Linked DNA regions of Homo sapiens: all the other regions are linked to region 2. The links come from fine-mapping of genetic effects on gene expression. A gene starts in region 2. Each other region holds a variant in brackets. All regions are shown on one strand. Distances are from middle to middle. Region 1 overlaps MYO3B (myosin IIIB). Region 2 holds the start of MYO3B (myosin IIIB). Region 3 overlaps MYO3B (myosin IIIB).

Region 1 (11,111 bases), 210 kb after region 2:
GGAGAGAAATATATATCGTTTTTAAGTTAAGAAGTTGCCTCACTGTGTTGTCTTTTTTGACACCACTTCTGACACCAAATGTTGTATTTTTTCCAGCATGAACCAATTCTCCAACACCAACTGGGTGCCCAACAATTCAGTTCAATTCTGACACTACCTGGAGTTAGCACAGACTCCACAGATTAAGCGATTAGTGCCACAAGACTGTTCCCACTTTAGATGCCAGCTGCAAATGGAGTACCTAGGCTTCTCACACATCTGCCCAGCCGAATACCAGTCCAGGGGTTCTTGTGACTCTCTTTAGGTTTGATAATTCACTAGGAATGACTCAAGGAACTGAGGAAAACACTTTACTTACATTTACCAGTTTATTATGAAGGGTATAACTCAGGAACAGCCAAATAGAAGAGACACATGGGGCAGGGTGTATGGGGGGAGGAAGGGGGCATGGCACACAGAGCTTCCATGCCTTTTCTGGACACATCCCCCTCCCAGCACCTCAATGTGTTCACCAACTCAGAAGCTCTCTGAATCTCCTTGTTCAAGAATTTGTATAACTTAATCTTTAAATCCCCTCTTCTTTCTAGAAGTTGGGAGGTAGGGCTGAAAGTTCCCACACTCTAATCACATGTTTGGTCTTTCTAATGACCAGTCTGAAGCTGTCTAGGGGGCTCACCTTGAACCACCTTCTTAGGAATAAACTGAGGTATGGTTGAAAGGGGCTCCTTGTGAATAACGAAAGATACTCCTACCACTCTTGGAAATCCCAAAGGTTTTAGGAGCTCAGTGCCAGGAACCAGGGACAAAGACCCAATATATAATTTTTATTATACCACATCCACTAATTTCCTTTATACCTAAAGAGCTCCTAGAAATGAATGATAAAAATATCAACAATACAATAAAAAATGGGCAAACAATACGGACAGGTCATGTAAAAGAAAAGCCTCTTAAGCATATGGAAGGAGGCCTCATTCATAATTTTTAAAATGCAGAATAAGGCTGCACTGAGATACCATTTTTTTAAGCTATTAGATTGTCAACAATCTAACATTCTGTTGTTGAGGCTACAGGAGAGCAGGCACTTTCACATATTGGTATAGTCCCTAGGAAAGCAATTTGGTAACGTGTGTCAAATTTACAAATGTATTTACCTTTTGATCCAACATCCCCATTTCTAGGAATTTCTCCTGCAGATGAACCTGCATAAAAATATAATGACTTAAGTATAAGGTTATTCATTGCAATGTTGTTTATAATTACAAGGAAAAAACTCAAATATCCCAATATTGGACAGATTAAACAGATTATGGTACATATGTACAATGGAACAACAAGTAGCTATACAAAAGGTTGAAGAAGGTCTCTATGTACTGAAATAGGAAGATGCCTAAGATCTATCTCTCAGTGAAAAATTAAGGTGTACAGTAGTGGATGTTATATGAAGCATGCAAGTTGCTTCTGTGCTATAAATTCTTCACTTGACGCTCCATTTTCTGTGCCAGTGCATTGTCATCAGCGGAGAGAGTGGCTCTGGGAAGACAGAAAGCGCCCACCTGATTGTTCAGCATTTGACTTTCTTGGGAAAGGTATTGACTAATCTGCTTTACGTATTGTGGCGAGAAGTTCCTACAGAGTAACTGCATATTTGATAAATGATGGAAGTGCTGGGTTTTTTTTATTAAGGCTTACATAAAGACATTCCATCTTTGCTACGTTTGCCTCCTGATAGCGAGGCCTCTTAAGATGTCAGCATGCTATCCTTCCTTCACGTAGGGAGGAGAATAATTCCAGCACAAATTTACTAGATTATCGGCAATTAATTTTCATGTTTTCAATGTAATAGAAACATTCAGCCATTAAGTAGTAAAAATGGTTAAGCACTAGGAACAGGATCAGGGAAAGCCACTATAGTGATTAAAAGGATGTAAAATAGAAGCCTTTGAGCAAAAGTTGAGGGAAATGAAAATTTTCAGCTTGGTGAAATCAATATTGAAAGAATGAATTCAAATAGTCTAGTAGTTACTTACACTCTGAATTAGTGTACTAGGTGACTAAGAAAGAATGTATGGAATTTTTATAGATAAGGTTTATAGACTATTACGATAAATGCCAGAAAAGTTACGGGATCTATTTAAAAATCTTTCTAAACTGGTTAGGTGTTTTATCTGTCAAGGATTTTAAATGAAATATGGCTGGATTTTTAAAACTGCTGTCCTAATCTAGCCAAATCCGATTCATATGCAGATCTGGGGAGTTGCTCATATGAGAAAATGATGCTGGTGGTTGATGCTAACGTCCCCCAAATGGGGCTCTTTGTAAAAAGACCATGTGGATTTTGGTGGGCAAGGGATGGTGCCTGGCAACTTTGCTGGTGTAATGTTTCTGGAGTCTCTTCTTGACCGTTCTCTGTTTGGCACAGGCCAATAATCAGACCTTGAGAGAGAAAATTCTACAAGTCAACTCCCTGGTGGAAGCCTTTGGGAACTCATGCACTGCCATCAATGACAACTCGAGCCGTTTTGGAAAATATCTGGAAATGATGTTTACACCAACTGGAGTTGTGATGGGGGCAAGAATCTCTGAATATCTCCTGGAAAAATCCAGAGTTATAAAACAGGCAGCGTAGGTGCACTACTTTATCACTGTGTTTTTGCCCTGCAGTAAAAACTGGGAGACTTTGGAAATTTTAATGGTTCAGTTTTCATTCTTGTTCTTAACATTCCCCTACCCTCCCCAAGGGCAAAGAATTATTTAAGCAAAGGATCAGTGGTAGTTTTTGACCTAAAAGAAATTAATGGAAAGAGTACAAAGGGCTGGGGTGGGCGTGCTTTAGGGATGGGTATGCTTGTTTCTCCTGAGTTGGTTGTGTCAGGTAGAATTTAGCAGCATTGCAGACATTTTTTAAAACCCTGAGGCCCCTTAAAATTGAACTTGTTGGTTAAAAAAGAAAAAGACACCAAGAATATTTCACATGTTAATTTTTTCCTTAGATTGAGACAGATAGAGAAAACAATTATTCTGTTTTTAGGGAAAGCATTTGGTAATAGAAATCAATAGCACAGACTTTGATCTGGGTTCAAATGCAGGTTCTGATACTCACTGTGTGACATTGGGCATTTCACTAACCTTCTCTGTGCCTCATCTGTGGAATGGAAATGCTACTAGTGCTGACCTCATGGGTTTGTTGTGAGGATTAACATGTTCATTTATATAAAATTACTTAAAAGAATGCCTAGTGTGGTACACCCTATCAGTGTTAGCTACTCTTCCTATGATAATAATATAACCACTGGTGTGGTACATACTATCAGAGTGTTAGCTACTCTTCCTATTATAATAATAACTCTTCATATAATAATAATAGCTATTATTATAATTGTTAATAATAATAGCTATTATTATTATTGTAGGACACCAGAGTTTCTCAGGAGCATGGCTCCGCACTTCCATATTAATGCATTATTGAATCCCTGCTGTTTGCCAGTGCTGTGCTTTGTGTTGGCTTGTAAGAGCAAACTAAATAAAAAAGATTCTTGTATTCACGGGGCTTAGAGTATGCGGTATATGAGGAAGCAGTAGGGGAGGATCACAGGCATTAAACAAGTAAACTTAAATGTAGAACAATTGTAATAAGCACCAGAAAGCAAAGTAGGTGCTATTAAGGTGAAACGAGAGAAGGGAACGACACATAACCTAGTCTAGGGAGAAAGAGGGGCTCCCTGTATATGAGATCACAGGATCACCAGGAGTTAGGCAACGAGGTGGGGACCAGAGCAAGGAGGAAAAGTGGCAAAGATAAGACTGAGACCAAATCATGCAGGGCTTTGGAACCAGGATAAGGATCTCAAACTTTTTTCTAAGGGCAATAGGAAGCCACTGAACGTTTTCAAGCAGGGGAGTCACCATACCCAACTTTCATTTTGAGATGATCACGCTAGCTTCAATGGGGAATGGATTGGGGGAGATGCAAGGATTGTGTTGACATGATTAGGAGGCTGTTGCCAGATTCATGTGAGAGAGAACGCTGGCCTAGACTAAGGCGGTGGCAGTGGAGATGGAGAGAAGATGAGGAGTCTGAGAGATACTGTGCAAGTAGAATTTACAGGAATTGTTCTGGGTTGAAAACCCAAGCATCTTCCTCTATCATGTACTTGCAGTTTCCTCACGCAGTAGGGACTGGCATGAACATTAAACAAATGAAAGACAGAGTCAGAGTCATTTACGCTTCCCTGTGGCTTTTTGATTAATTTTTATGAGGTCCCCTGCTTTTGTCTCCCCAGGTTAGGGTGGTTTTAAAATTTAGGGAGCTACCTCTGACAGAATGGAAAGCATAGTGTTCTGTGTTCAAATGTAAAGTGGTCTTTTACAAAGATAATGTGAGGAGAGTTCTAGGTCACTTAATGTGATATGTTGCTTATTAATGTAAATATTCATATACCTTACTTTCCTCATATGCAACATGGGCATAATAATGTCAACCTCACAAGGCTGTTATGAGAATTAAATGAGATGAAGAGAAGATGGGGCCTGTCCCAGTCCTGTTCATCTAACTGTTGGGATTCACCCCCTTCTGGGCACACTGTAGGGTTCCTGTGTGGCTGGGTGTGGTCATATAACTGGTTCTGGCAAGTGGGCATGTAATGGCAACCCTCCAGAGTCTGGCACAGTGTAAGATGGGGGCTGCTCTGCCAGCCACAGCCCATCAGTGACTGCAGTGAGCACAGCCCCACCGCTGACCTGCCATGGACATGTACTCTGAGCAAGAACTAAACCTTTATTGAGTTAAGCTACTAAGATCTGGGGGTGTTTATTATCATAACAAAGCCTAGCCAATCTTGACAGATAAAGGGATGAAAATGAAACTGAAGTGATGCTAGGGATGGATGTCGGCAGGAAAAGCTTGGAAGAATTGAGAACTAGATGGATCTGTAGAAAAACTAAAGGAATGTAAGACTAAGATGGGCCAGCCAAAGCCTGCACATGTAACAGAGGTTAAAGAACAAGTGACATTCATCTCAGGCCTTTCGGTTCCTGTCTCAGTGAAGGGTGCCACCATCACTAGATGCTCAAGCTAGAAATCTAGGAGGCAGACTCTAGGTTTCTTTCCGTCACCATCCTCATTCAGTCTATTAGGATGTTCTTTTGGTTGTTTCTCCAGAATATATATAATATTTAAGCTTACCGTTATTCTCCATCACCACTACCATTACCCTATCCAAGCTATTATGCTTTCTCACCTGGACCCCCTCACTGGTTTCCCTGTAGCCATCTTGGCTTCTTATAATGACACTCAGAGAACATGAATCCCTTTAGTCCTGTATCCC[T/TG]GGCACCTGGTATAGTGCCTACCGTGACTGGCAATTAATATGTTTATTCATTGAATAGTCACATTTTTCTATTTATATATATCCTATAACATGTTGTATATCTTAAATATACACAATAAAATTTATTTTTAAAAAATAAAAATAAGGGCTGGGCACAGTGGCTCACGCCTGTAATCCCAGCACTTTGGGAGGCCAAGGCAGGAAGATAGCTTGTTTGAGACCAGCCTGTGCAACATAGTGAGACTCTGTCTCTACAAACACAAAAACCTTAGTGGGGGATGGTGATGTGTGCCTATAGTCATGGCTACTTTGGAGGCTGAGGTGCAAGAATTGCTTGAACCCAGAAATTTGAGGCTGCAGTGAGCTATGACCTCACCACTGCACTCCAGCCTGGACAACAGAGTGAGACCCTGTCTCTTAACTAGATTTATTAGTTAAGTGAACAAGTGAGTGAGAAATGGCAAGTAGAGGCATCTAGAATACAGGGCAGGGATAAAGAATGTCACAGAAGGGCTTTGACAGGATAAACAACCAAAGGAAGATGAGGAGACCCAGGAGAGGCTGAACAGAATGGGGGCCATGCCACAAAGGCGGATAAGGGGAGAAGAAAGACGATTTCTTTTCATGGAGCTAGGTTGACCAAAGAAAAGATTTGCCAAAATCCAAGGGTATCTACAGAAGAGACTGTCCTCCTCCAGAGGAAAGAAGGGGATGTGGAGCAGTGCTTTTCAAACTCTGTGCTAAGGGACCACTTTTTAAAAAAAATCTCCAACCCATTTTGAACTAATACCTTTGTAAAATGCAATGCAAATTAATTATCAGAAAAATTATCATGCTCTTGGATGTCATGGCAATGTCACTTGCTATAAAACGTCTAGGCATGTACTTACCAGTTCCTTCTCTTGTTAGAAACTGACAGCAGTCCACAGGCTATGCTCAGAGTAGCACCTATCTGAAAGGACCCTGGCCAGGGTAGCCTAAAAGAGGTGGATGGCAGGAGACCAGACTAATGAATGACATTTTGAGTAGTACTTTTAAGAATACCAGCTTGGGAGAGTGAAAAACCTCAGTTCTGGACCAATTCTGCTCCCTAACCTGCTGTGAGACTTGCAGGCCACTTCCTGTCTAGGGCTCCAGTAAAGTAGAGGATTTGGCTGATGTCTCTAAGCTGGACCTCACTGTCTCTGAAGCAACATGTGGTACAAGCAGAAGGTAGTAGGCGTTTGGGCTGCAATAGAAAGAGCTCAACATATGTAACTTGAGCTGTTTCCTGTAAATGTCCCATTCTCTGAAACCTTTTGCTTGTCGTAAAGTGTGTTTAATAATGCAACATTATGACAATTACTATACTAATCCTATCACTATTCTGTAAGTGGGATTTATAATATTTAATTGCCTGAAAATACAAATTTGCCATGGAATAATCTTTTGTACAGAAAGGAAATGGTGTAAAATACTTGGGATGGGGAAGCCAGAATATATTATTACTAAAGTCTCTTTTTTTTTCAGGAGAGAGAAAAATTTTCATATATTTTACTATATTTATGCTGGTCTTCATCACCAAAAGAAGCTTTCTGATTTCAGACTTCCTGAGGAAAAACCTCCTAGGTAAGTGTCAGGGGGGTTGGTTGTTAATTTTTGATGAATGTACGATTAGCAGTTGACAAACTTGGAAGTAAATGGAGCTGTTTTCCTAACTGGAAACTCACAGTCTATTTAACTAAAGTGCCCAGGGTGAGGTGGCAGGAAGTATCCACCATTTTCATTGTCTAGAAAGTTCAAAAACTCAACTGCACATGGTTTATTTTTTTTCAGCCATTTGCATCATTATTCTACCACAGTATTAGACTATAAAGGAAATGGGCTGGGTGTGGCGGCTCATGCCTGTAATCCCAGTGCTTTGGCAAGCTGAAGTGGGAGGATTACTTGAAGCCTGGAGTTTGAGACCAGCCAGGGCAGCATAGTGAGACTCTGTCTCTACAATTTTTTTTTTAATTAGCTACTCGGGAGGCTGAGGTGGGAGAACTGCTTGAACCTGGGAGGTCGAGGCTGCAGTGAGCCAAGTTCGTGCCACTGCGCTCCAGCCTGGGTGACAGAGCAAGACCCTGTCTCAAAAAAAAAAAAAAAAAAAAATTAGCTGGGTGTGGTGGCATACACCTGTAGTCCAAGCTACTCAGGAGGCTGAGGCAGGAGGATCACTAGAGCCCAGGAGTTCAAGGCTGCAGTGAGCTATGATCACACCACTGCACTTCAGGCTGGGCAACAGAGTGAGGTCCCATCTTTAAACAAACAACAAACAAAAAATGGAAATGCCTGTACTACTTTCCAAGTCAGTGCTCATTCTGTTTGGTCATGCTCCACTTCATTTAGGTACATAGCTGATGAAACTGGAAGGGTGATGCACGACATAACTTCCAAGGAGTCTTACAGAAGACAATTCGAAGCAATTCAGCATTGCTTCAGGATTATAGGGTTCACGGACAAAGTAAGTGATGATCAAGAGAGGAACTCAAGTGACAATATTCTTATATGAATGTGAGTAAAGATGTGGTATTTCTCACTTGGGATAAGACACTTGCTTTCAAATGCCATGTTGGTCATGTTATAAGGTCTTGCTACTCAAAGTGTGGTCCCAGGACCAGAAACATTGTTATCACCTGAGAACTTATTAGAAATGCAGACCCTGAGGTCTATCCAAGAATGACTGCATCAGAATATAATCATTTTAACGAGAAGTCCAGATGAACATCAAACTAGGGGAGCACTGTTTTAAGGACCATGTGCTGATAAATTGTTATCATTGTCATCAATTCATTACACGTGTAATAACAAATACCAAAACAATACTGTGGGTTTTTTTTCTGATTGAGCGTTCTTCCAACCATTAAAGTGAACGGGGGGTAGGAGTACAGGAATATGTAGATGACACCCAAGTCACAGAAATATATTTATGCAAGTAGCTCCTTAGGTAACAAGACAAACTAATTAAAACCCTTTCAACTTTCTTGCAGTTATTTCCTTCTCCAGGGTACACAGTTGCACATTATTAACTATAGCTCTAAGTACTGTACTACTTTTTTTTTTTTTTTTTGAGACAGAATCTTACTCTGTCACCCAGGCTGGAGTGCAGTGGCGGGATCTCAGCTCACTGCAACTTCTGTCTCCTGGCTTCAAGCGATTCTCCTGCTTCAGCCTCCCGAGTAGCTGGGGTTACAGGTGTGTGCCACCACACCTGACTAATTTTTGTATTTTTAGTAGAGACGGGGTTTCACCATGTTGGCCAAGCTGGTCTTGAACTCCTGACCTCAAGTGATCCACCTGCCTCAGCCTCCCAAAGTGCTGGGATTACAGGCATAAGCCACCATGCCTGGCCAATACTGTACTACCCTTATCATCCTAGATACAAGCTGTCTGTATTAAATATATGCTAGGGGTGACAGACAATATTTATAACCCTAGGCTCAAATATTACTCTGTGATACATTATGTCATAGTTTCTGGGCTTCATGCCATCAATTTTGCAAAATATATAGATTCTTTTGCTTTTCCAACAAAGGGGGTGAATTATTAGGAGGTAGGTGAGAGTGTTAAATCTTAAGGGATTAGATTACAAGACACTCCAGTTACCCTGGGATGGCCACTCCAGATAAAGGATTACTTCTGTGTAATGCAGTATGATTGGCTAGCCCTTCCCTCCCCTGCATGGTTGATTTTAATCATAATAGTACCTTTCTTTTTTTTCTGTCTAGCCAGCTGTTAATTTTCTCTGTCAGCCTCCCGCAGACTTTAAACTGACAGACAATGGAAAATCCCAAAGGTCAGATAAAAATATAAATATATTTTCCTTGGCTTCTTAGAGGGGGGCAATTAAACAGGTTCTAGCATTGTTAAAGGACCTTTGTGGTTATTAACTTAAAGAACAGGTTTTTTAAATCAAAGATGCATCCCCAGAAGAGTTAAAGCATGGTAGGAATGGCAGTGGAGCAATTTAAAGTCACTTGTGTCATGCCAAAGTACGCAGGGGCACATGTCCTTAAAAGGGTACAGGAACCATAGAGAAGTCAAGGTTAATAATCATTAACAGAGTTAATATTTTGTTTTCTTTGAGTACAAATATAGTTATAGAATACTGTGAAGAGACTGATCCTAGCTGAACCCATTTATGCCTAGTGTTCCATTATTGGAATGCTAAACATGTGGGAGTTATTTATACCCTACTGCTCAAGGTCATCACCAAGGTCTGATTGCAAAAATTCAAAACATTGCAACCTCAGGCTTAGGTGGGTTAAAAGAAAGTATATAATGGTGCCATTCTAATAATAGCAATGTACTGCTAATAATAATAAAACAGATGCTATCTGTTTCAGGATAAACAACGTTGAAAACTGTTAAAATCTGTTTTAGTACAACAACACTAAAGCATTAAAAACAGAAGAATTAAGTATGTTAAGTATATGTCCTTGAAGTAAGCCATCCCTAGCCCCTCTGGGAAAAAAGGTACAATAGAAATAAATGAATGACTGTATGAATAAACATGAAAAGAAAAAAATGTAAAAGATGGTGAACATTTTTCATTTGTGCCTGGTCTGTACTGTTAAATGAATAACCAGAATGTAATGGTGTTATGTGTGTATATTTTCACCATGTCCCACATTAATTCATACAGGAAATAAACCAATTTATATAAGCTGCAACCTTAGAAATGAAAGGAAGAAGCAGGATCTTCTCTCTCCAACTCTGAATTCTGTGGTTCTATCTCTGCTGACAACCTGTTTTGCTGAGTTAACTCAGTTCACTTCATGTTTATAAACTCAAAAAGTAGTGTGACTAAATTCAGAAAGATCCAGTTGAAGGTAGTCAGGAAACAGATGCCAAATGCTGATGTAACAGAACTTTCTCTTAAGTTTTTCTGGCAGACATTTCTAGATAAAGCTTAAATGAACTGATCAAGTCAATCAAAATTATGGTTCTTCTCCTTTCTTACAATGTCACTAGTTCCCTGCAGGAATCCCTTTAGTTTTTCTCAAACCCTTACAGCAAAATTATGAGTAGCAAACTTTAGTGTGGAGTCAGGAGCATGAATTTTAATTCTGGGACAACAGCCAAAGTATCTGAAAGAACACTTGACCCTGAGTTTATTGTAAAGAAATTTCCCTGGTGGAGGAGTCTTCCACTAATAATGATGATGACTCCTTGTGGAGGGCTGGGGGATTATACCTAAGACCTTATTGTGAAGATTGTGCTTTTCAACTCTTATTTCTGGAGCCAAACCATACTATTTTTGTTTAAAATTATATTTGTCTTCCTGGTAGGAATTAACATATTACATAAATTGGGTTTTAGATATGTTTCTATTTAATGCTACATGAAAACTTTTTGGGCAGATGATCTATGTGATGGTCAAGATTGGACGTACACTATAGATCCCTGTTGGAGAGGTTAGGGAGAAGCCTTTGAGATCGGCGCAAAATTTCTTCCCTTTCTTCAAAATAGATTATGAATTGAGAGAGTACTGCTCTGAAGAGAGATTGAAGGATTATATGTGAAAATATGACTCGGGAGTCTTGAGGATTTCTAATGTCTTGATGACAGACAATAGGATACCATTGACTTTTAAGATGACAAAAGTTGTGAGCCTCTGCAAAGGAGACCGAGAAGTGTTGGAACAGAGCCTGTGGGGAGGTCCTTCAGCTGGTCCTAATGCAGTGCTTAGGGAAGAACTGATGAAAAACTGACGAGATTTACAAAAAAGAAAGAAAGGAAAGAGAGACTGGGAACGGAAGT
Region 2 (7,850 bases):
CAGACCAGGCCCTCGGTTCGTTCGCAAGAGGTTGTCCCTTCCTTCAGATGGTCCATTTTGAGCTAATAAGTACTATCAGGGTTGAGGTGGAGAGGCGGGGCTGTGGGGAAGGAAATTAGGATAAATTACTGGGGCCCAGTGGCTGAAAGGGCCTCGGGCAAATCCCTGGTGAAGACAGTCTAGCCAGTCCTCCTCTGCTGGGGCATCTGGTATTTTTTTTCCCTTGGGCCTGGGCAGGCTGTCGGTCACCTTCCAGACTGTATAGCCTTTAACTCCTTGTTGCAATGGAATCCTGCTGGCCTTCTGATTTGCCTTTTCCTGCAAAAATCTGCCAAGACACTCTTTCTCAAAGAAAATTTCCTATGTTACTCTACTGTTTAAAAGCCTGGTGTGGCACCCTCTCACCTTTGAGGAAAAATTCCAGCCCCCCAGGCTGCCTGAAAGCTCTGCCTTCAACTGACTCTTGTATACAAATTCAACTTCATCTCTTGATTATTTTTATAATTCTTCTACTGGAACCAGGCTGATCTTTTTAACAACCTGTTAATTTTAATAACCTGTTCATTTATTTATTAATTTATTCTGCAAGCAGATGGGATGATAAGTTCAGTCCAACTGTAGGAATCCATGATTCTACTAGCTATAATATGAGCAATTATTATGTGCAAATACTGTAGGAAATATAGGAAGATAGAACACATTATCCCCATTCTTAAGATTCTTATGACAGTAAATGGAAACACAAAGGCCATTATTGACTAGCGGGAGTAAGATCGCTGTCCTTTAAATCACCTTCTTCATATTTGCATTCTCTGTGTGCTGTTTCTTGGCTCTGGGTTTCTCTCCTGCCTCATCTACACTAATCCTTTTCACTTCTTCATTCAAAACTGTACCTAGATTTATCTGCTCCAGGAAGCATTCCCACTCAAGTCTTGGTCCTGGGTTGAACTGACTCCTCCTCAGAATTGATGGATATAGCTTATCCAGTGTTATTGCACAGTCTTCAACTATTTCACATGGGCCTATGTGTCATGTTAGCTGGCCAGAAAAGAAGCTTTCTGGGGACCCTACCCTCCTGTTTCTCACTTCCCCTCTCTCCCTTTTTTTTTTTTTTTTTTTTTTTTGAGATGGAGTCTTACTTTGTTGCCCAGCCTGGAGTGCAGTGGCAGAATCTCTACTCACTGCAACCTCCGTTTCCCAGGTTCAAACAATTCTCCTGCCTCAGCATCCCTGGTAGCTGGGATTACAGGCGCACACCACCATACCCTGCTAATTTTTGTATTTTTAGTAGAGATGGGGTTTCCCCATGTTGGCCAGGCTGGTCTCGAACTCCTGACCTCAGGTGATCCACGAGCCTTGGCCTCCCAAAGTACTGGGATTACAGGCGTGATCCACCATGCCCAGCACCACCCCCCCACCCCCTGCCTCCTCTTAACCTACTGTTCTGTATATAGCCCAGGGCATGCTACTGAATGAATAGTCACTGTTGAATAGTCACTGTTTCATTGCTTGGTAATTCAGATCAGAAACTCATGGTGTTTCCCCTGGGTTTATCTGCAGTTCAGAAAAGTGACCCTGACTACATGCTTTGATTATGCCCTTTGCTCACAAAAAGATGATTAGTTTTGATTGTGCAGCATTTGGAATGAAGGAATTTAATCTGGAATGAAGGAACTTTAAAAGGTTGGGGGAATATCACATTGGAACTGTTAAATGACATGCAAACAGGATCTGTGAGAATGGTTTTGATTCTGCTCTGTGTCCTGGTAGGAGACACTAAATAGATCAGGCTCACTACCAATTAGCATCATCTTAATCTTGCCTAATAGTGAAGCAAAGTCACCAAGGATTTGGTGGATTTATCAGCTCCTCCCACAATAGTCATCTGAGGCTAACACCTCTTGGAACCTAGATCGAAAGTCCTTTGGTAATGATGTGTCATACATTCTAGTCATCAAAGACACCATTTTCTGGGCCTGAAGTGTTCTGCTGGTTTTTGGAGGAATGAGAATCCAATCTCTCATAAGCCGGATTCAGAAAATAGGTCATCGATGTGAGTTGCAGTTATTTTCCTTCCAGCTTTCTTCTGTGCTTGCTTTAGATTGTTTTTCTGCAAAGGGCAGATGCAGCTGCCCTGGCTGGTGGGCAGTGGAGGGGGATGACAGCCACTCTGGCTTTGGGCCTCTGTCTGACATCACCCAGATTCCTGGGTCCTCTCAGTTAGCATTTGCCTTTTGTCTGGGTGGTTAAATTTCTCTTGAAGGAGTAGGATAAACACCCTCTTGAGTATTGCTTTTTACACAGACACACACCACACACACACACACACACACACACACATACACACAGCATAGTTCATAGTCACTTGATTTGCCACCTGCAGTTTATAATAGAATGGACCTGTGGGATTATAAACCACTTTATTTCTGCACAGAATTTCTCAGCTTGAGGCCAAATTGAAGGGCATTAGTCATCAGTAATTTGCAGATGTTTTTAATGTTTTTCACCCAAGAGAGGTTTCAGGCAGCTAAAGCTAAGATAAATTTCCTCATGCTTTGGTGGGGAAATGAAAAATCTGATCATTTAGTTAATCATTTGTAAGAGCTGTGGGTATGTATTGTTCCTTAGTGACTGCAATATCATGACAGATTTGTTAATTTGGTAACATGACAATGTAAACAATAGTAGATAAATTCCATTATGCCATGATTCTTTTCTTCCTCTCAGTAATTTTGTATATTCAAGGTTTAAAATCCATAGAACATTAGAGATGGAACTTAGAGATCAACCTAGAGATCATTGGATTCCTCTACCAAGCTCTGTCAAATGCCAGTCCTGAGTGTCTCCCCTGGAGCATCAGGATAAATAGCTAATGCATGGGGGGCTTAATAGGTGCAGCCAACCCACCATAGCACATGTTTATCTGTGTAACAAACCTGCACGTCCTGCACATGTAACCTGGAACTTAAAATAAAATAAAATTTAAAGAAAGGAAAAGAGTACATAATCAGTGGAACCATAAAGGTCAGTTCTAGTGGGAAAATTAGGAAAGGCCTCCTAGAAGAGAAGACATTTGAGCTATACTTGAACAGGCCCTATCTAGCAGCATCCAGATAGGTGGTTTGTGAAGAAGCCAGTTCCTACTCTTACGTCTTTACCATGGTTATGGTTTGAATGTCCCCTCCAAAGATCATGTTGAAATTTAATTGCCATTGTGAGAAGAAATGGGACCTTTAAGAGGTGACTAGGTCATGAGGGCTCTGCCCTTATGAATGGATTAATGCTGTTATTGTGGGAGACGGCTCCTAGTAAAAGGATAGGTTCAGTCTCCTTTTTCTCTCTCTTGAGCTCTCACTCTCTTGCCCTGTCTCACTATGTGAGACCTTCCACCATGTTATGATGCAGCAAGAAGGCCCTCACCAGATGTGGCCCCTTGATCTTGGACTTCCCAGCCTCCAGAACCATGAGCCAAATAAACTTCTATTGTTTATAAATGATGCAGTCTGTGGTATTCTGTTACAGCAGCAGAAAATGGACTAACACAACTATTATGCACTTGCTTATGTATTGGTTTGGAATTATTCTCTAATTTACTCACGCTTGTATGGTATGTGTTTCCTTATTCTGTGTATCTCTGGGTGTTATATTTAATATTTGTACAGATTTCCTCTGACATTTCACAGTTCAGGTTTCCGATTTCTTCTTTCTAAAATCTATTCTCTAGATTTGAAAGCATTCTATGATTTGTGATTCATATATACCATACTATAACATCTAGAAAAAATATTCTGAATAGCATACTGAGCAATGGAAATCTTCATCATGAATTTTCTAATGAGTATAAAATGTTGCTGGGCAAGTTTCTATTTAAATCATGCTCGCTAGGCTTGACTAACTGCAGACATTCACAGGGTGCATGCTGCAGAGTGCTTTACTTTCAACAAGGTAAGGCTGTACCTCCGTTAGGGACTAATTCAGGGTATTCAACAAGGGATCAGACTAGACCAATTTGGGGTTGTTAAGGAACTAAAACTAGCTCACGAGAAACTCAAATCAGCTCATGAAAAGAGGGGCTGCTTGGAAGAATGCAGTAGGAAATTTCATGGGTTACAAGGACAGACAGCAAAGCTTAGCAGGCCTCAGAGGGCCAAGATGTAGAATTCACAGTGAACCCACTCACTAATCCTCTTTGTCTCACTCTCTCAAGCATGGTCCTTTCAGTTTCTTATTTCTCTGTTTTCTTTTTCTTCTCAGGATGAGCCTCTGTTTCATATGGTTTCTGCTATCCTCTGACTTCAGCACACATTTGGGTCATAATAGTCTCCTCTGTAGAGATCTCTTATATGTTTTTTTAAAAAATATTTATTTTAAAAAGTAGAATAACATATGCACTAGCAAAAAACATGACTAAAAATGTGTAATAATTTTAAAAAGCATATAAATTTCTCTCTTTTCCAAACTCTCTGATTTTTACCACCTCTCCCTAAAGTTTAAGAGTTTCCTGTGTAGCCTTCTGGAAAAATGTATATAAGGATATACACATACATAGAGACATACACACAAATATACACATAAAATGACTAGAAATGCAAATATTCTTTGTATTTACACAAAAATTGTCCTCTCTATACACTATTCAACACTTTTAAAACAAATCTTAATTGTATATTTGGCATTCTTTCCATATTAATTGGCAGAAAATTTACCTTTTTTCTTTTTGGTGGTTACCTGTGGCTACATTGTATTTAATTTTATGTAACTATTATGATTTATTAGATAATCTCTCCATGATGATGGGCCTCTAGGTTGTATCTGGTTTTCTACTGAAAATAATACTATAGTGAACAATCTTGTATGTCTATCTACTTCAAGTTTAATAGAGTTTTAGCTCTTACATCTGTTTAATGATTAAAGTTAATTTTTATATGTGGTGTAAGGATAAAGATTCTTTTTTTCTTTTTGCATATTGCTCTACAATTGTTTTAGCACTGTTGAAAAGTTTTCCTTTCTAGTATGTAGAAATATAATTGAATTTAAAATATTGACCTTGTTTGTATCCTGTAATTCTGATAAACTCACTAATTAGTTCTAGTAATGTTTTTATAAATTCCATCAGTTTTTTAAATAGATAATCATGTAATCTTCAAATTAAGCCCATTTTACTTCTTCCCTTCTAATCTGGATTTTTAAATTTTCTTTTTCTTGACTTATTATTCTGGCTTCACCACAGTATTCAATATAAATGATGAGAGCAGACATCCTTGGCTTCTGATCTTAAGGTGAAAGCATTCGGTTTTTCACCATTAAGTGTGGTGTTAACTTCAGGTTTTTCCTAGATTCCTGTATCAGATGAAGAAGTTCCTTTCACTTTCTAGTCTGTTGAGAGATTTTTGTTGTTGTTTTTAAATTTTGAATAAATGTTGAATTTTTTGTGAATGCTTTTTCTGCATCGATCGAGATGATGGTTTTTCTTTTATGTTCTGTTAATATAAATCTAAGTGTGCTTTTTTTGATTATATATGTAAAGTAAATGCCTACCAGTAGAATTACAGAGACAAAGGGAATGGGCATTTGGTAGATTTTGACTAATAATTCCTCACAAAGATTGTTTACGCTTTCGCTCATGTTGTCTCAGAGTGCTTATTTCTCTTAACACTATTATCAAACTTCTAAAAATCTTGACAGTGTGATAGGAGACAAATGGTATCTCATTAGTTTGATTTGCCGTTTAAAATTTACTAGTGAGATTTAGCATCTTTTATACATTTAAATTTTTTGAGTCTTTTTCTTTTTTATTGTATATACTCTTGATAGAAAATTAGCTCCTGATACAAACCTTCTTTTCTATTTATTTTTTGGAAAAATGTTAGTACTTACAACAATTCTTTTGGTTGTAGAGACCTTTTTACTTGTATGCAATTATGTTTATCAATTTTTTTCTTAGGGCTTGTGAGTTTTCTATTCTACTTGAAAATATTTCTTGCCTACACCAAGACTATAATGTATTTAGCTATATTTTTTTAAAAAATTTTGAGCCACCATACTCTATTTTGGAGAAAGGAATGAGGTAGCAATCTGGCTTAACTTTTTTTCTGAACAGCCAGCAAGTTAAGCCAGCATAATTTATTGAACAGTATTATTTAGTCCATCTTTTGCCTATTGATTTGTAATGTGATTTTTATCATAAACCCTATTTCTTTGTGTATTTGAGTCTACTTTTGGTTTCTAGTCTAACGATCTGACTACTTATTTCTACCCCTGTGGCATAATGTTTTAATTACTCTAGCAGTATAACATGTTTTAGTGTCTGGTCAAATTATGTTCACTAATTATTCTTTTTTAAAATTTTCATGTTATGTGTTTTTCTTTTTCTGTTTCTTTTTTTTTTTTTTTGAGACTGAGTTTCACTCCATTGCCCAAGGTGGAGTGCAGTGGCGTGATCTCAGCTGTCTGCAACCTACGCCTCCCAGGTTTATGTTATTCTCCTGCCTCAGCCTCCTGAGTAGCTGGGATTACAGGCACCTGCACCACACCCGGCTAAGTTTTCTGTTTTTAGTAGAGACGAGGTTTCACCATGTTGGCCTGGCTGGTCAAACTCCTGACCTCAAGTGATCTGTCTGCCTTGGCCTCCCAAAGTGCTGGGATTACAGGTGTGAGCCACTGTGACCAGCCCTCATGTGTTTAATTTTCTAATGAAGTTTAATATCATTTTGTCAAATTCTTAAAAAAAAACAAAGCGGCTGGGCGCTGTGGCTCATGCCTGTAATCTAGGACTTTGGGAGGCCAAGGCGGGTGGATTGCCTGAGCTCAGGAGTTCAAGACCAGCCTGGGCAACACTGTGAAACCCCGTCTCTACTAAAATACAAAAAAATTAGCTGGGCGTGGTGGCATGCACCTGTAATCCCAGTTACTTGGGAGGCTCAGGCAAGAAAATTGCTTGAACCTGGGAGGCAGAGGTTGCAGTGAGCTGAGATCACACCATTGCACTCCAGCCTGGGCCACAGAGCAAGACTCTGTCTCAAAAAAAAACAATTATTTACTTTCAGACTAAATTTAGGAAGAATTGACATCTTCACAGTAAGGTTTTCTATCCAAGCATAAGGTATATGGTTTTGCATTTTTTTGGTCTCTTTTCATTTAATCCATTGATTTTAAGATTTTACTTTTATACATTCTGCTCTGTTCTCGTTAGGTTTAGCTTTGGGCATTTTACTCTCTTTAATTCCTATTAAAATGCTATTTTCTTTCTGGCTGATTACTTTTAACATATAGAAAAATATATTTTGAAATTGCTTGATTTCTAGATGCTAATTTTATACTCAGCTCCTCAATGAATCAACTTAATTTTTTTCATTGTTAAACTTTGATTTTCCAGGAATAAATCATTCCACTATTTATTTTATATTCACCATCTTCCCAGTGTTTATTTCTATGTTTTTTTGTCTAATCACAGTGGCTAATACTTCAAAAACAATGCAAAATTTTATAGTGTTTGTGAGAGATACTTGTCTTTTTTCTTGATTTTTATTAGCAATGGTTGTAGAAATCCATTATTAACTAAGATGTTGACTTTTGGTTTGAGAGATATGTTTCTGTGCTGTTTAAATGCTAGAAAGGAATTAACCCATTTGAATTTTTTAATGTTCTAAAAATTAGATATTAAAACTTACCAGATTCATTTTGGATTTCCATTTTTAATGGTGTTTCATACTTTGATATATTAATGGGAAAATCATAGTAATATATTCCCTAATGTTGCATTATCTTTGCTAAATTCTAATAGCTGATTTTTTTTCTGTGGTTTTATGTTTGTTTATTTTTAATTTTTAGTTTTTGTGGGTACATAATAG
Region 3 (11,111 bases), 30 kb after region 2:
TTAATAATGTGGAAGAAAGTTGATGGCTTATTGAGCAAGGAACATTTTATTGCTTGAAATGATGACTGTCTTAGCAAATGCACATACTGTGATTGAATCAATATTCAATGACGTTTTGGAAAATAGATGTGGAATGTAAATGATTTTTCTATTTTTCTTGGTTTGGAGCAAAATGCTCATTAAATTCTAGATGCATTCAGCTACCACATTTCCTGAATGCTGAGGGCGTAGGGAGGAACTGCAGGAATGAAAACACACTTCTGTATTTGAATCTGGTGGCTGGCAGAGTGGGCGGGAATAAAGGGCTGATATGTCAACCCTCAGGGCTGGGGTGGGAGGCTTGGTTGCCTTCTTACAATTCTAAAGGGATTATTTTACTTGGTGCATTTAAATATAATTCTTTGTTATGCTTTTAAAATGTTCAACCCATTTCACTGAACATTTATTCTGATTAGACAATTGTCAGTGTACACCTGATTTCTTTTTTTTATATCCAAGTGCCCAGTCTTTTTTCTATAACCCATAGGCTGCCCTTGAAAACCTTGCTGGTGGGCTTATCAACTTCACAGGACAGCTTCCTTTAAAAGTGTCCTGAGCAGTTTAATTATATGTTTCTGTGAGTTCTGGGAAGTCAGACAGCTCTTATACTCTGACATTTAGTGAACAAAAAGCACTGGCTGGGTAAGATTCCTTTGTTGTTTTTAAATCCATAGCTGAGTTTTGATCCTGCTGACAAATAGCTACTCTTAATCCCTTCATAAGTTCTAGAGTTACAAATAAAGTTTATAAGTTGGCTACCTATATAAAATATTGCTGAAGAGGCCTTTGTTGCAAAAATGGCCACACTTAAAGTAGGGCAGGGAGAGAGACCAAAATGAGGTGTCAGGGGAAAATTCCAGGGTTGCATTTTCTGGGATCATCACCCAGCATTTAATTTAAAATTTCTCTCAGTAGAATTTTAATAGCATGCTTGCAATGCAAGAAAGCCTGTGCCTCCCTGAGATGTGAGCCAGGGTGGGGAGTGGTCCTGATGAAGGTTCTGTTGTGCTTTGCATCCCTATTACTGCCTTTCCTTTAGAGGAGCAAAGACTATTGATATTTTCCTAATTCTCACAGTTTCCCTAGACTCTGTCTCTTCTTCACCTTTCACATGTGGCTGGTCAGAAATTCCTGTCATTTCTATCTCAAAAAAAGTCTCCCAAATCTCTCCCTCCCTTTTATCCTCATGACTTCTTGACCCTGCCTCTCTTGATTACGTCAATATCTTCCAATGGATACTCCAGCTCCTAGTGTTGTCTTCTGTCCATCCTCCATCTGCTGACCAAATCATTTTTCTAGAATGCCAGTCTGAACATTGAGACCTCCTGCCTAAAATCTGTTAATAGTTTCCCTTTTTTATCTAGTGATATATCATGGTATTATAATATACATAGAATATTATATGGGTAGTATACAGGTATATATTATATGCGTAGTATATGGATATATATTATATGGGTAGTATACATAGTATATTATAATAAAGCCCATACTCCTTAGCAGGGCATACCTGTCATTCCCTGTCATTGGCCTTCCTCCTCCATCTCCCTGCCCCAGGATTCTGGCATCCTTTGTCCCAACAGTAGTAGAGTATTTAGAACTCATCACACACATGTACCCTCACATGCACATTCCCCCTCATTCTTTCATGCCCCCTACATTTGCACAAGATGTCCCCATGTTCCTTTTCACAGAATCTTCTTTCCCTTCATGTCCACCTGCCCCAAACCCATTTGTCCTTCAAACTCATTGTAAATGTTACATCCTCTGGGAAGTTTTCCTAGACTGTCCCCTCTTTGCCCTCCCTCAGCAGAGTTCACCCTTCCTTCTTTGGTGCCACCACACTTCCTTAGGCACAGCTCTGCTTCCACATTCCACACTATAATTACTCGTATGTCCATTACTGGGCAGTGACCTCTTTGAGGCTAGAGATTGTGTCATATTCATGATTGAGTAATAGGTAATAAACCAGACAGTCATAAACTATTGATAACAAAGAGGTGCCTTTCTTCTCAATAACTGAACTAAACTGGGTTCTTGAGCCCCCAGCCTGACTAAAGGAGGCAACTGATTCTAACCCATTTTGTTAAACTTAAGTCCAGTTGAGTGACTTTGTGGAGTGGCATATTCCAGTATTTATATCCAATTTTCACTGTCCAGTTCAAGGCTTAGTCATTTGGGTACGTACTCAGTTTTTTAGGGCCTCTTCTCTCCCTCTTCCCTCTCCCTTTTCCCTGGGTGGCATCTGGATCTGGGTACAAGTAGATGCTTACATAATGCCATGGTAGTGAGGGCAGAGGCTTCGGAACTGTATTGTAACCACAAAGTCCTTGTGATAATAAAACTGTATTTTCTCCCTTTGGTATCTTTGATGTTCCTGGTCTCTGACACTCCCTCCTATCATGAGGTCCTCATGTCCTTTGTCCTTATTTAAACTCTAACCTTATCCCTGTCCCCAAATAGAGCATGAAGTTCTGAGTGTCTTACAAGTTGTGAGCAGATTGTAGAAAACTGTTATTGTAATCTCAAGCATGGTCTACCTCACCATGCCATACTTTCATTTCACTTGACACAGACACCCCTTGTTATCAAGAGGTCTCCTCTTAGATTTCCAAATGGGAAGAGGATCATAAGAAACTGAAATTTCTATTATCATTACCCGCTTACACAGACACCCCCCTCCCAGAGGGAGCATCCTCATTCTAATCTTGTCCTCTTAATCTCCCCTAACTCCAGTTAGGGGAAAACAGTCAGATCTCCCTCAGAGGCCTATCTAAGGGTTGCTGGCCAAAGGGGCCATCATCCGAGGCTCCAGTTGCATGACCATTTGGAGTTTGATGTCATGAAGGTGAGAAAGAGACAAACTGGGTTATTAGAAAACATGTATTAAAACAAAATGGGGGCAGGGGGTGGGGATAGCTCAAAAGTCTTGAGGCCTTTTATGTTTGCACAGGAAGAGGGAGGCCAAAAGCCCAACTGGTAAAAAACTTTTACCTTTCTGCCATCGTGTCAGGCTTTTGGGTTCCCTTCCCCTGAGCGCAATCCTAAGCCAACCAGTCTAAGGTTTGGGAAATTAACTGTTCCTAGTTTGGAGGATGCATCTGAGGGGAGTGTCCCATAGTACAGAGAGACAATTACCTATCAGTGAAGAGAGGAAGAGAAAGAAAAAAAAAAAGGCTTTTTTTTTTCTCAAAGGATTAGTCTAAAGTGCATCCCAGGGGTTCAGGATGCACTCAAAAGGGGTACAGACTGAAGATGAATGGCTACTCATCTAGAAAGAGGAGAGCAAGGCATCCCTGGTTCCCTTCTCTTCCTAGCAAATACCTGGGGTACATGAGGGAGAGAAAGTGAGTCATTCCTCTTTCTTTTCCTCCATCCTTGTATCCCCAAGTTCCAGTGACTGTGACAGGGTACTGCCCATGGAGTCAAAGCGGCTTTCACCCTTGTTAAAAGGGAGTCTGGGGGTGGGAGTATCCACTCTTACCCACGTATGCCCTATCTCCTCTGCTGTCAGTAGCCTTTGAATTCTCTAGACCTCATTTATGCCACGGGTAGTATCATGACCTTTATCCATGAAATGGGAAGCCTGGCTTAACTGGCAGGAAACCAGTCATGCTCACCTGTGCTATGCCTTTTAACTTCCATTATCATCTACCTCTGGATCCCTCAAATCCAGTTTTCTTTCCTAGGGCTTTGACCTGAAGCTTGGAATTGAGTTTGGGACAAAAATGTGCCTCGGAGAAGGGGTGTTGCATGGACTCCTTATCATAAGCCAAATGCTAAGGTGAAGCTGTGGAATTGAGTCCTCCTCCAACAAGGGAGAGAAAAGGATGTCTTGTGACATGCCCAGATAACTGGTGGCTATAGTTATGCTTGCTAAGATGTAGGTGCATGGGGCTTGGCTTTGGTTAGCTCCCTTGGTCTTACTTTCCCCAGAAGAAAACTCTGGGTGATGGGCACCCTATTTATATCCTATTTATTCCCATCACCTGGCAGTATTTGCAGGATAATTGCTCAGAACTAGAATTTTGATCCAGGTTTTTACATCACCTATCCCTTTTATTCTTTCTAAGCTGCAGCTGGAGATTCCTGGTTGGTTCACAGGAACAAGCAGGGTTAGTCTAAAGGGTAGGCAAAAACTTAAAAACAACTAATGAGTCTAGAATTTAATGACAAATGTATGGTAAGTTTTAAAACATAATTTCTCTATCTCCAGTCCCTCATTTTTTTGTTAAAAAAAAATCAGGACTGAGTTGCTGGCAAAATAGACTTTAGTCTTACACTTGACCTGATTATTTGCATAAAGTGCAGCAAGAATAATTGTTTCTACATAGGCCTTTTAGATTGGCTTTGATGGAACTCTGTTCCTCAAGGAATTTCGGATAAGACCTTTTAAAGCTGAGCACAGCCATGGGTTTGTATCCTCAAATACCTGTGAGTTGGGTGATCCTCTCCTTTTAAGGTCCCAAGATAAACTTAGAGCTCCTGGTCCTGTCATAAAGTAACATTTTTTACTTACTACAGGTCAGGAACCCTATACAGGTACTGCGTAGATAAGGCCAGTTTTCCCAAGGGGCTTTTAGCAGCTCTGCAAGTCGAGCTTGACTCCTTAAAGGGAAGCATACCCTTCCAGTCAAAGCCTTGGTAAAACAGTTTCTCCAATTGCATCATACTGCAAAAGAAAATGGATTCTTATGGCACTGATGCAAACAACTACATTGCTGTAAGTTAAGAATACTCACAACTAGTTTCCAAATTCTGGGGAAGCCAGGCAGAGAGGGACATATATGCTCCAAATTTTGTTCACAGGAGTATACCTTAATCATTAAAGGCCATAAATAGTTCAAAATAAGTTTCCTTGACTCTGAAAAACAAAACAAGGGTCAGCAATATTCCAAGCAAAAGTCAAAAAGATAGCTTCAGTTTTCTATGAGTTCGGTCCATTTAGTTAACTCTTGTTTGATATTCATGAACATTTCAGCTCTTTATGAGTCCTGTACATTTTTCCTTTTTTCCAATGTCACAATCTCCAAAGTTATCAGAAACCTGTATTTGAGAGCACCTGTCAGAGTCCTGTGGCACCTGTCAGAGTCTGGTTTATTATAAACTATCTTTTGAAAAGGACCAAAACAAGACAACAATTGTTGGGAATAAAAAAATTGCCCAGGGTATTTACAGTTAGAAACACAATTGACAAAGAAGTTTGGTTATCTCTCTTCTTCTCAAAGAAGTCTGGTTTACAATAACATAACAACCTTAATTATGATGATAGCATATACATTAGACATTAGAATTTTAAAAATCCCATACAATTTTGGAACACATATTAATATTATTCATCAAAATATAACCTAAATAATATTGAACACCATTTTGGCAATTCCATGTAACTAAACATGTCAAATGATCCCTTTTACCTCTCTTTTGGATACTCCAGGGCCCTCTGTAGCATCCAAAAGCTAGGTGTCAGGAAAGGCAATTTTGAAACTGAAGTTTGATTTTGGGAAGCCTATTAAATATGTTAGTGGTTTAAAACACTGAAATAGAATTCCAGATTACCAAAAGTTATTTATTTTGCCAAACGATGACTCAGAAATTTAAAAAAGCAAAAACCTTTTATAACCCTTTACAAATTTTGCTAAAGAGCAGATTAGTGCCTTAAGAGTACCTTGTTGTGCTTTTATTTCAATGCTCAATTTACAAAAAAACTATATAATACCCTTTTGAATTTAGTCAATCTGTTCACACACTGAATTTTTGCAATATTAATTTTTACAGTCCTTCCATCATTTGTTTAAACTGTCAGCTTTATTTTATCTAATTCAAAACAGTCCTTTAAACCTAGGCAAGAATTTACATTTCCATGCCTTCTTGTAATCTTTTACTAAAAACACATCTTACTGTTCCTACATACCTTGCGTGTAAATCTATTTCCAGTAGTTTCAATTACATGTTATAATGGTAACCCCTAGCAATTTTAAGTTTAATGTAAAACCTGGTAAGTTGTTTTAATTATGTGCTAGGTTCAGGCAAGGTTTGACTCCTTCCAACAT[A/G]ATTAAGGGTGTGGTTAATTCCTTATGTCCCCAGGCCTTACTAATTGTCAAGCTGGCAAGTTGAAAAGTTCTTAAAAACCAAAAAGGCAGTTTATAACCTTAAAACATTTAGCAAACCTAGTATCTGACCTGCATAATTTAGTTCACCTGTGTATATTTGACAACATCTGCATTTTACCAATAATCTTTAAGGCTGTTTTTATTTCTCAAAGATTAAAGTCACATGAACTAAAACGTACCACAGCTTTAATCTTCCCTTTAAAAAAAATTTGATCCAAGCACTTGTCTTCCATTAGACCAATTAATTAGAGCTTTTTTATAGACATCACACACACAACACATATGTAACTACACAGACAGGCAGAAGAAAACCAGCAGCCATAAGATTTTCATTTGCCCATCTCCTATTTGGATTATTGGCCTCTGGGTGGGGCCCTTTAAGAGACAGGGCTAGGAAAACATGCAGCTTTTAAGGCCTAATAAACAGGCATGACTGGGAGGCAAAATCAGAGTTTGAGAGGGATCTATCCACTTTTAATTCCTGGGGTTCCATGAGAAAAACAGGTTTCTTCCCAAAACGGAGTGGTGCCTTGTCTGTTTTTCCCAAGGAGTCCCATGGCCCCAGGAGTTATCTTAGGGCCTGCCATGCATGCACTGAGAGTGGCAAGCCAAATGGAGAAAAATAATTTAGTCAACTGAGGAAAAGCCTTTTTCCAGCAAAGCAAGATACCCAAAGAGGAAAAAGCATAAAGGCCTTTTAAATAAACCATAACTTGGACATCCACTTTTAATTAAACTGAGCACTCTCTAAGAAAATCCTTTTAACTCCCTTATTACCCGATTTTAGCCATGCCAAGCAGCTAGTATTTCTGGCTTTCAAACTTTACTAACGTTAACCTCGCAGGTGAAACCAACAAGCCTCACTTAAGGTTATTATTTCACTGTGAGCGTATGCGGTATTTTCGAAGGGGATAAGGGTAAGCAATTCTTACAAAATTTAGAACCTTTAGAGGTAACCCAGTGAAAGGAAGATGTAAGAAAAAGGCTAAGCGTTGTTCATGGTGGGGAAGAGAATCAGCAAATGGCAGAAGTCACACAGATATTAACTGGAAAGTACTCATTTCCTAAGCCAGGATTGAACCTAGGCATCATTGTGAAATGAAAAACAAAAAGCATTGCCACATGGTTACAGGTCACAATCCCAAGCACACAAAACAAGATGGAGGCCTGCAGCAAAGTTTGCTGTTGGCCATACAGGAAGTCATGCAAAGCACACCAGATTGGCTACAGCTTAAGACCAACCTCACAAATCCTTTTTCATAATTAAAACTTTACAGAAAATATAAACCCTGATAGTTGGGGTCCTGGCCTGGTAAAATGTTTTCTTAAAAAAAAAAAAAAAAGCCAGCTGGGTTCTGTGGCTCAGGCCTGTAATCCCAGCACCTTGGGAGGCCGAGGCTGGCAGATCACCTGAGGTCGGGAGTTCAAGACCAGCCTGACCAACATGGAGAAACCCTGTCTCTACTAAAAATACAAAATTAGCTGGGTGTGGTGGCGCATACCTGTAATCCCAGCTACTCTGGAGGCTGAGGCAGGAGAATCGCTTGGACCCAGGGGGCGGAGTTTGTGGTGAGCCAAGATGGCGCCACTGCACTCCAGCCTGGGCAAAAACAGTGAAACTCCCTCTCAAAAAAAAAAAAAAAAAAGTCTGGGGGAAGAATCTCTTATTTTTATGCCAGTGAGTTTCTCCAACAGGGAGAGAAACTTGGGAGCTGGGGAGCCACCAGTTTGCCCGTCCAGCCGACATTCCTGACCTCCAGGAATGACATTTTAATATGGGGGGGCATAATTTCTCTACCCTCAGAAGAAGTCGGAGGACAAAAAGGCTTAGAAGCCAAAGGAAAAAGACTTTTTGGTTTGCATGTCACTCACCTTTCCTTAAGCCCTACGCCTGGATGCCAAAAATGTTGCAGAACTTTCTCCTTAGTTCCACCAAAACGGGGTTTTTGTCACTTGACCAGGAAAGATTAGATTGGTAGACACATAAAAGGGTGAGGAGCGGAATTTATTGGGAGAAAAGGAAAAAAAAGAAAGAACTCAGCAAAGTGAGATGGAGTCCTGCTAACAGGCCCTCTACCTCACCGATTGATTCCCAGGTCACCACACGAGCTAAAGAGAGCAGGCTACTTCCCTGCATAAGGCGTGAATTCCCCGTGGCTCCACCCATTTCCCCCAGTGCTCGTGTCTGGCTCCAGTCTGCTGTGGGGATGCCCATACAAGCCTAGGGCACAATTGTTGCCTAATCTGCACAAAGCATCTGATGTAAACACTTGCGGGGCAGGTCAGAGATTCTCTGGGGACCCCCTTTTTATCTGCCTAGGCGTTTGGCTATCTCAGTAGCTTTTAGAATCTGGTGAAAGCTCTGCATTTTCTCCCCAGTAAACTGCAAGATGCATATACAGCATGCTGCCTACAATTTCAGGGTATTTCCATGCTCTGCTCAAAACAGTTAAGAACCTTTGACTTAGGATGGCTTGTAGCAAACCCAAACCTGCACGTTGACTTCTGCAATTAGTAAGAGTCATCTTTGGAAATCCTTAAGTTGATGAAAAAGTATTGTAGCAGGACAAGCCGCAGACAAAACTCCTCAGACACCGAGTTAAAGAAGGAAGTGGTTTATTCCGCCGGGAGCATCGGGCAAGACTCCTGTCTCAAGAGCCGAGCTCTCTGAGTGAGCAATTCCTGTCCCTTTTAAGGGCTCACAACTCTAAGGGGGTCCGCGTGAGAGAGTCGTGATCGATTGACCAAGCAGGGGGTACGTGACAGGGGCTGCATGCACCGGTGGTCAGAGTGAAACAGAACAGACCGGGAAGTTTCACAGTGTCTTTTCTATACAATATCTGGAATCTATAGATAACATATCCGGTTAGGTCAGGGGTCAATCTTTAACTACCAGGCTTAGGTCAGGCAGGCCCAGGCCTGGTTTCGGGTCTGGTTCCTAGGCACCGGGCTACCTGCCTTTTGTTTTGCTTTTCTTTTCTGAGTATAAAACAATATAAAACAATATGAGAGGGTCTGTCTCTCTTCTCTCAGTATAACTGCTTTATGTGCTCAAACTTCAGTTAAGATACAATATATGACAAAGAACAAATATGCAAAATAAAATTAGTGTTTTTAATTACAGACAAAAAAGAGAGAAGAGCATAAAGTTGCTGAGAGCCTAAAATTGAACATTAAAAAGTTAATAAATGCACTTATGATGCAACTTCACTCCATAAACTTTATCTGCAATGGCAGTTCTAGGAAGAACTGCTGGTTGGGCTTCTGATACGTGCTAGCACTGGAGAAATCACTGAAATTTATTCTCTCTCAGGTATCAAGGGCATCCATCTTGCCTCTCCCGGTTTTTCCTTATCCTCAAAATGCACATTAAAAACATAGACAATATTCATATAAAGTGAAAAATATCCAATAAGTTGCCATTATTATTTATATGCTTTTTCTTTCCAAAAATATTCTTTGTAAAAAATTTCTAATTGTGCTTTATATTTTATTTTTATTTTATATTTGGCAATTAAAAAGTTAGCATTTTGAACATGCACTTTCACTCATAAATCATCACCTCAAATAAAAAATACATACGCAAAGAATTAGATTAGACTGGGTAATGGAAATGTGAAGTCTGAGTATTCCAAGCTGGAGTTTTGTAATCTGCAAATTTACTACATTGAATCAGTATCAGTCGGCTTTTCTTAATTTCTTTTTCTTTTCTTTTTCACATGTGGTCTCCTGCTCTCCCTGTGTCTGGCACCTCTTCTTGCAGCTGTGTAATGGGGGCTCAGTCACTGAGCTTGTCAAAGGTCTACTCAGATGTGGCCAGCGGTTGGATGAAGCAATGATCTCATACATCTTGTACGGGGCCCTCTTGGTAAGAACATCTATCAAATGGGGTATGACAGCAGATGGGATGGTTTGTTCATTGCTTGGGTCCTTATTGCATATTAACAATGGGGAAACTGCCCTATGATATGCAAGGATTACTAACAGCAGGAAGGTGTAGCCAAATGTAGACTTTCATGAGACTTTTCAATAGTAGGGTAATTGCTTTAAAATAAGCATGTAAATTTCCCCTTTCTCTTTCCTGTTGTTTGGTGGTGGTGGGATGCCATGCAGGGCCTTCAGCATTTGCACAACAACCGAATCATCCACCGTGATGTGAAGGGGAATAACATTCTTCTGACAACAGAAGGAGGAGTTAAGCTCGTTGACTTTGGTAATGACTGCTTGTCGTTTGTTTTCTTGACGTGTGCAGTTTAGCCAAAGGGGACAATTTATTGCAATCTCAGAAGACTGGGGCTTCTCTGCTACACCATAGGCTGAGGGACTTTTCCAGTCAAACACAAGCTGGAGGGGGTGGGGGCTCCAGATGGATCACCCTAGGAGATGCTGTTTGCTAATCTAGTTTCAGCTTTAGAAGCAATTTTATAAAGATTGAAAATAAAAGTGTTTCAAAAGAAGAACTTGATGGAAAAACTTTTCGGTTTTCTGCTAAGAATTTCACATCTCAGGGCAATTGTCTATAATTTACATTTTGTCATTTCTTCTTTTGCATATGAAAAGAGAAAGCAGTTTGGTCTTTCAAATGACTTTCACTAGCCTTAGGCATACTTATTCCCAGGGAGCAGAAGGTAAAATAGTCCTCTGGGCCTGGGAGCTAACATCCTTTTAAATTGTGTTTACTGCTGCTACATGTGAGGCTGGTTGAACTGGAAACATTAACGGGAAATGGAAGTGTGAGAGGAAATGCAGGGCAATATCACCTAAGGCCAGAGAACTATTAAATATCCCCTTGTAATATCATATGTTGATATTCACAAAACAACAAACCATTTGGTTTTTTTTTTAAGTTTATTGAAGGTTTAGTCTTCTAAATGAGTTCAGCAATAGTACTTCAGAGTCATTGTTACAAATAATGAGAAAACATTTAGTGAAACACTTTAAACGTGTTTTTTTAAAAGA

Evidence for each region. PIP is the estimated chance that this variant, and not a neighbour inherited with it, causes the effect.
Region 1: its variant is the best candidate, but not a certain one, in a credible set for the expression of MYO3B in tibial artery (GTEx, PIP 0.73).
Region 3: its variant is the best candidate, but not a certain one, in a credible set for the expression of MYO3B in thyroid (GTEx, PIP 0.71).

Annotation. Positions count from the first base shown.
Region 1 is chr2:170,384,684-170,395,794 of GRCh38, forward strand. MYO3B (myosin IIIB) reads left to right here. Exons shown (of 35, transcript NM_138995.5): 13 at 1,506-1,589; 14 at 2,423-2,625; 15 at 6,837-6,935; 16 at 7,698-7,812. Among named protein-coding and RNA genes, the nearest start is that of MYO3B-AS1, 39 kb to the left of the region's middle. The variant T/TG (reference allele first, on the strand shown) is at 5,328.
Region 2 is chr2:170,176,237-170,184,086 of GRCh38, forward strand. It overlaps MYO3B (myosin IIIB), which reads left to right and starts at 1,911. Exons shown (of 35, transcript NM_138995.5): 1 at 1,911-2,053. The coding sequence starts at 2,052. RefSeq lists an enhancer at 4,093-4,322.
Region 3 is chr2:170,204,464-170,215,574 of GRCh38, forward strand. MYO3B (myosin IIIB) reads left to right here. Exons shown (of 35, transcript NM_138995.5): 4 at 9,916-10,020; 5 at 10,266-10,365. Among named protein-coding and RNA genes, the nearest start is that of MYO3B, 32 kb to the left of the region's middle. RefSeq lists enhancers at 9,650-10,341, 10,342-11,033. The variant A/G (reference allele first, on the strand shown) is at 6,093.